2 separate regions of the Homo sapiens genome follow, and region 1 is linked to region 2. Evidence: fine-mapped expression QTL. A gene starts in region 2. The other region holds a variant in brackets. All regions are shown on one strand. Distances are between the middles of the regions. Region 1 holds the start of MIR7850 (microRNA 7850). Region 2 holds the start of GADD45B (growth arrest and DNA damage inducible beta).

What was found. PIP is the estimated chance that this variant, and not a neighbour inherited with it, causes the effect. A credible set is the group of variants that fine-mapping cannot tell apart.
Region 1: its variant is the best candidate, but not a certain one, in a credible set for the expression of GADD45B in whole blood (INTERVAL, PIP 0.59).

Annotation. Positions count from the first base shown.
Region 1 is chr19:2,628,353-2,631,368 of GRCh38, reverse strand. The region is part of intron 2 of GNG7 (G protein subunit gamma 7); the gene reads left to right. MIR7850 (microRNA 7850) reads right to left here and starts at 654; the gene lies at 576-654. The variant C/T (reference allele first, on the strand shown) is at 1,455.
Region 2 is chr19:2,474,968-2,477,682 of GRCh38, reverse strand. GADD45B (growth arrest and DNA damage inducible beta) reads right to left here and starts at 1,556. Exons shown (of 4, transcript NM_015675.4): 1 at 1,281-1,556; 2 at 1,053-1,154; 3 at 432-654; 4 at 1-195. The coding sequence starts at 1,324. The coding sequence ends at 82. RefSeq lists enhancers at 166-235, 256-315, 386-545, 556-665, 307-896 and 3 more and a silencer at 2,296-2,405.

The DNA of each region.
Region 1 (3,016 bases), 150 kb before region 2:
GGAAAGAATGATCGTCACTGGACAGATAAGGATGCTGAGACCTAGCGAGGTTAAGTGGCTTCATGAGGTGACATAACCAGCAGTTTAGGGCTTGGGCTCCCAACTCTGCCACCTACTGGCTCTGTGACCCTGGGCCATCTCTGTGCTTTTCTGAACCTCAATGCCCTCGTCTGTGAAAGGGGGGAGAATAGGCAGTGCCTGCCTCTCAAGGGGTTAATGCATGTCAAGCTGTCTAATACTAAATGCACCATTCTTCCTCTGGTCTTCATGCCTGCTATGCCTCCTCAGCCCCACACAGTGCTGTTGAGACAATCAGATAATGTCATAGTCATTAGACCTTTTTGATGATATACTCAGACATACTCAGGAGGAAACTGCTGAGTTGCTTGGCTGATTGTGGAGGGACATGATGTCCAAACCCTTGTGTATGAATAAGTTTGAAAGCTGACCATAAAATCCCAGAATGCTCTAGTCTGCAGCACATAAAGAGTGTATTAGCTAGCTATGGCTGCGTAACAACTACCATGAATGCAGTAGCTTAGAGTGACACCCATTTATTATCTCATGGTTCCATAGGTCAGAAGTTTGGATGTAGTGTGGCTGGGTAAGACCCTGCACAGAGGACCCAGCCACACTATGTCCAAACTTCTGACCTCGGAGATGTGAGCCAGGGCTGCATTCTCATCCGAAGGTTTGTGTGGTGACGGATCCCCTTCCAAGCTCATTCCAGGCTCATTCAGAATTCAGTTCTTTGTGGTTGATAGACTGTTTCTGTTGCGTTGTTAGCTGTCAGGAGGGGGCAACTCTCAGCTCTTTGAGGCCACTCTCAGGCCACTTGGCCTTCTCCATAGGCCCCTCATGCTTCCAGGCTCTCATTTCAGGAAAGGCCCAATCCCTTTTAAAGGGTCACCTGATTAGACCAGGCCCACCTAGGATAATCGCCCTTTCAGTGAACTCAAGGTCAACTGATTTAGGACCTTATTTACCTCTTCAAAATCCCTTCTTTCCTGAAAAGCAACCTAATCAGGGGAGTGATATCTCATCATGTCCACGGGCCCTGCCCACACTCAAGGGGAGGGGGTTCTACAAGATATGTTCTCCAGGGAGATCTTAGACTCCTCTTGGTGGCAAAGGGAAGGGGGGGCCTGCGTTCGGCCTCAGCCAGGACCGAATCAGCAGGACCTTCACTCCCTTTTTCTGGCGTCCATCCCTTCCTCTTGCAGGAGTACTGCCAGGTCTTTGGGGAGAGGGTGGGGGTTATTGGGAGAAAGGAGGCATTTGGAAAGTAGGTGGCAGGCTGTGTCCCAGTTACACCTAAATGTGTCTCCACTTATTAAAAAAAAAAAACAACCTTTATTTTGAAATCATTACAGATTCAGAGGAAGTTGCAAAAATCACACAGAGCAAAAAACATCACATGTATCTTCACAGTTTCCCCCAGTGGTGACATCTTA[C/T]GTAACCATAGTACAAAACCAGGAAATGGACCCTGGCACCATGTATGTGCAAAGCTCTGTGCCCTTTCGCACACATGCAGACTCGGCTTCACCTTATTTATGGGTGTGCAGGAACATTAAGTGTCCATAAATGTGGACGGAGCTCCTCTTACTCGTGGGCATGGGGTCAGAGGGAGGCGGGAGTACAACCAAACAAAACCATCTAGACTTTGACCGTTGATGTGGGTGCCAGGTTCCAATCACCGTGTGCCCCCACACTGCGTTCAGGGCTACGCTCTTCTGTCTTCTCCCACTAGTCTGTGAGTCTGTGAGGTCTTGTCCACTACCTCTTTAGGCAGCCAGCCCTTCTGGTGGGCTTTGTCGTGGGGAGGGGGTGGCACTAGGTGTGTTCTGGGGCTCCTAGCACTAGAAGACTTGTTTCAAATCCAGAAGCACCTCCTATTCGTGTGGGCGCCCAGGCAACTTACCTGACCCGTCTGTGACTCTGTGTCCTTGGGGACCTCCTATTCTAAACACAAGAGCGTGGCCTGCTGTCACCGTCACCATCCTGGCATCTGCAGAAGAGCCACCAAGCGCTGCCTCCTGAGAATTTCTGGAAGGAGGAGATGACTGGTAGAGTGGAAAGTTATTGAAAGGGACATTTGGAGTTCTTTCCAAGGGACATAACCCATCTCCCAATATCCCCTATCCATTTGCTCAACCTTCAGAGAGACCTACTAAGATATCCAGTTGTTCACCTCAAGTCTTCAACTTTCCCCAAAGTTCTTTGCTGTTTTCTCTGTGCCTTGCACAGAGCCTGATGCATAGTACGTGCTCCTTGGGGGCCACTTTGTGTGTGTTTCCTACTAATGGCACCTACAGCAGCAATGGCCACCATGTCTTTTACAGCTACAGTCCTAGGCAGAATTCCAAGATGGCGCCCAAGACCCCCACCGCCTGGTGCCCACATCTTATCTAATCCCCTGCACTTGAGGATGGGCTGGACCTGCGAATACGATGGGGTGTCACTCCAGTGGTTAGGTTAATGCAGTTAGGTCGTGTGTTCGGTAAAGGGATTTTGCAGATGCGACGAAGATTCCTAGTCAGTTGACCTGAGCTCATCAAAAAGGAGACATCCTGGGTGGGCCTGACCTCATCAGGTGAGCCCATAAAAGAGACCAGAAGCACATCCCGAGGTGTCAAATTCAGAGAGACAGAAGGGAGAATGGTGGGTGCTAGGGGCTGGGGGAGGGAAGAGGGGAGCTGTTGTTCAGTGGATACAGTGTCTCAGTTTTACAAGATGGAAGGTTCTGGAGAGCCATTGCACAGCAGTGTGAGTATACTTAACATCACTGAACCGTACACATAAACGTGGTTAAGATGATCCGTCTTATGTTATATATATATATACACACACACACACACACCACAGTTGAAAGAAAGAGAGAAAGGGAAGGGGTTTCTTGCCTTAAAGAAAGCAAACAGCTATGTCGTGAGCTGCCTGTGGAGGGTCCATGTGGCAGACACCTGAGAGTAGCCTCTAGGGGCTCAGAGCACTCACATCCAACAGCCAGTAGGTAAAC
Region 2 (2,715 bases):
CTGGGGGGGAGGGGGTTCAAATATTTATTGTATTTTTTGTTTGTGGCAGCAACTCAACAGATTCTGCTGCTGGGAAGGGCCTCAGCGTTCCTGAAGAGAGATGTAGGGGACCCACTGGTTGTTGCCCCGGCTTTCTTCGCAGTAGCTGGCCACCTCCACCAAGCCGTGGCTCTTCCAGGCGTCCGTGTGAGGGTTCTGTAGGAGGGAAAAGAAGGGGTTTAGTGGAGCCTCCCTCTCCCGGGGCCCCTGTGTGGGGAAAACAGTCAGGCTCAAAATAGCTTCCTGGGTGAGGAGGCCCCAGCCCGGCTGCCCACGGGACATGCCAAACGTGGCTGAGCGCTGAGCTGTGCAGGACCAGTCAGCCCGACTTTGTTGACAAACACCGGCCCAGGTGCCCGGGCGTGGCGGGGCAGGGCAGAGGCCCGACTCACCGTGACCAGGAGACAATGCAGGTCTCGGGCCTCGGTGGTGCCCTGGGTCTCGGCCGGCTCTCCCAGGAGCTGCGCCAGGCGCTGCATGCCCGACACCCGCACGATGTTGATGTCGTTGTCACAGCAGAAGGACTGGATGAGCGTGAAGTGGATTTGCAGGGCGATGTCATCCTCCTCCTCCTCGTCAATGGCCAAGAGGCAGAGGACCACGCTGTCTGGGTCCCTGAGGGGGCCAAAGGGTAGGGATGGGTCAGCCGGGGACAGGGGAGGGGCCACCGTGCAGGGGGAGTTTGCAAAAAAGGAGCGTGCAAGAGCAAAAGAGAAACTGCAAGGGTGCAGGGGATTGCCTCTGCAAGCTGGTGACGGTGGGGGGAGGGGAGGGCACACGGTTCAAAGTATGGGGTAGGGGGAGACAGGCCCACGGCGGGAGGGGTGTTTGCAGACGATACATCAGGATACGGCAGCCCCCGATCCACAAAACGGCAGAGAAGCTCTGCATCCACAGCGGGGGGCACTTGGGGAAGTCCCAGCTCCATGCAAGACAAGCGTGCGGAAAGCGTCCAGAGCGGAGGGGAGGTCCCGTCCCACCCGCGCCCAGCCCGGGAAGGGGGTCTGACTCACACATTCATCAACTTGGCCGACTCGTACACCCCCACTGTGAGGCGATCCTGGCGCTGAGCGGCCACCAAAAGCTCCTCCACCGCGGCGGTCACCGTCTGCATCCTGAGACCAGGAAAGAGGGATCAGTGACGGGCGGACCACCGGGTGCTACGTTCCGCTCCCGGCCCGGCCCAACCCGACCCATCCCGTCCCGGCTGACCTCAGGCGGCGGCAGCCCCGGCTACTTACTTCTGCGCCGCGTTGTCGCACGCCACGAGCTCTTCCAGCGTCATGTTGCAATTATAATCCACAGTGGATGCGGCTCCACGGCAGTCCCCAGGGAGAAATTGCAAAATCCGAGCCAGAGAGCCCAAAACCTTCCCACAGAGCTAGAGCGCTCGTCCAAGACCTTCGGGAAGCAGCGAAATCCTTCCAGAAAAGGCGGAAAAATATATTGCAAAGTCCTTGGCGAGGATAATCCAGGAAGTTGCGGAAACCAACGGTAGTCCGACGCTTCGGCGATCTGAGCTGGGAGCCTCCGGCACCGACTTTTATAGACTTGAACATTGGGCGTGGCCTCAGTGGAGTCATTCGCCCCTCCTATTGGTGGAAAGACAAGGGCGAGTGCAGCTAGCTCTGCGGTTGGCCGACGGAGGGGAGGGGGAGGAGCGGCGTGCGGGGGCGCCCCACGTGGGGGCGAGAACCGGGAGGAGGGCGCGCGGGGGCCGGGTAGGTGACCGCGAATGCCAGAAAAGAAAAAAAAGCAGAAGTTTTTTTCTCCTGATTTCCCGGCAGCCGAGCCGCGGTTCGGGGCGCGCGCGGGATTTCCAGCGCGCGAGGCGGCCCGGACTTTCGGGGGGGCCTGGAATCCCCTCCCGATCCGCGGAGAGTCCCGGACCGCGCCTTTCCCAAGTTCTGCTGGGGGTGGAGGGGCTGCACCGGGAAGGGGCCCCGTTTGCAGCGTGATCTCGCCCAGGTGGTGGTGAGGGCCGGAGTCTCTCCTGGCTGCGACGACCCCAGCCCCTGGGTGATTTCGCTTCTCCCGGCCTCTCTGTTCCCGTCTGAGTAATGGGTCTGCAGCGCCGGCCTCGCTGGTTTGCAGAGCATGGCATAAAATACGGCTGACAGTAAGAGCCCAATACACATCAGCTGTCACCTGGTGGTCGCGGGAGGCCTCCTCGAGGGCCCCGAAAGTGGGAGGTTGCAAAGCCCGGGGCGCTCTGGAGAAGAAAGTGGGCGCCTCCTCGCCGACCCCGCGAGTATCAGGGTGGGGTGCGCGTGGGAGGTGCAGGTGGCGCGGCCCCGCCCCCGCCGGCTGCCTGGCGTTCCAGCCTTTGCCCGTGCGGAGGCCTCCAGGCCCTGGAGAAAGCCATTGTTGAGGGGAATGGTGCAGGCTCCGGCTGCACGCCGCCACCCAGGGCCCACGTGCAAGGATGACGGCTACTTTTATTTCTCACTCCGGGGTGGGCGCTGACCTGCATTGAGTGCGTGGTGCGGACCTGGTACCCCCCACCCCTCCGGATTCATGGATGATTTAATCCAAGACCTGGGAAGCAGGGGGGATGCTTATGTGCATTATGCAAAAGGGGAAACTGAGGCTTGGTGAGGCCATAGGCTAGTTCGTGTTGGAGCCACGCGTGTGCGCCAGGCACGGCCGCCTGCAGGACTCCGCCGCCCCGGGAAG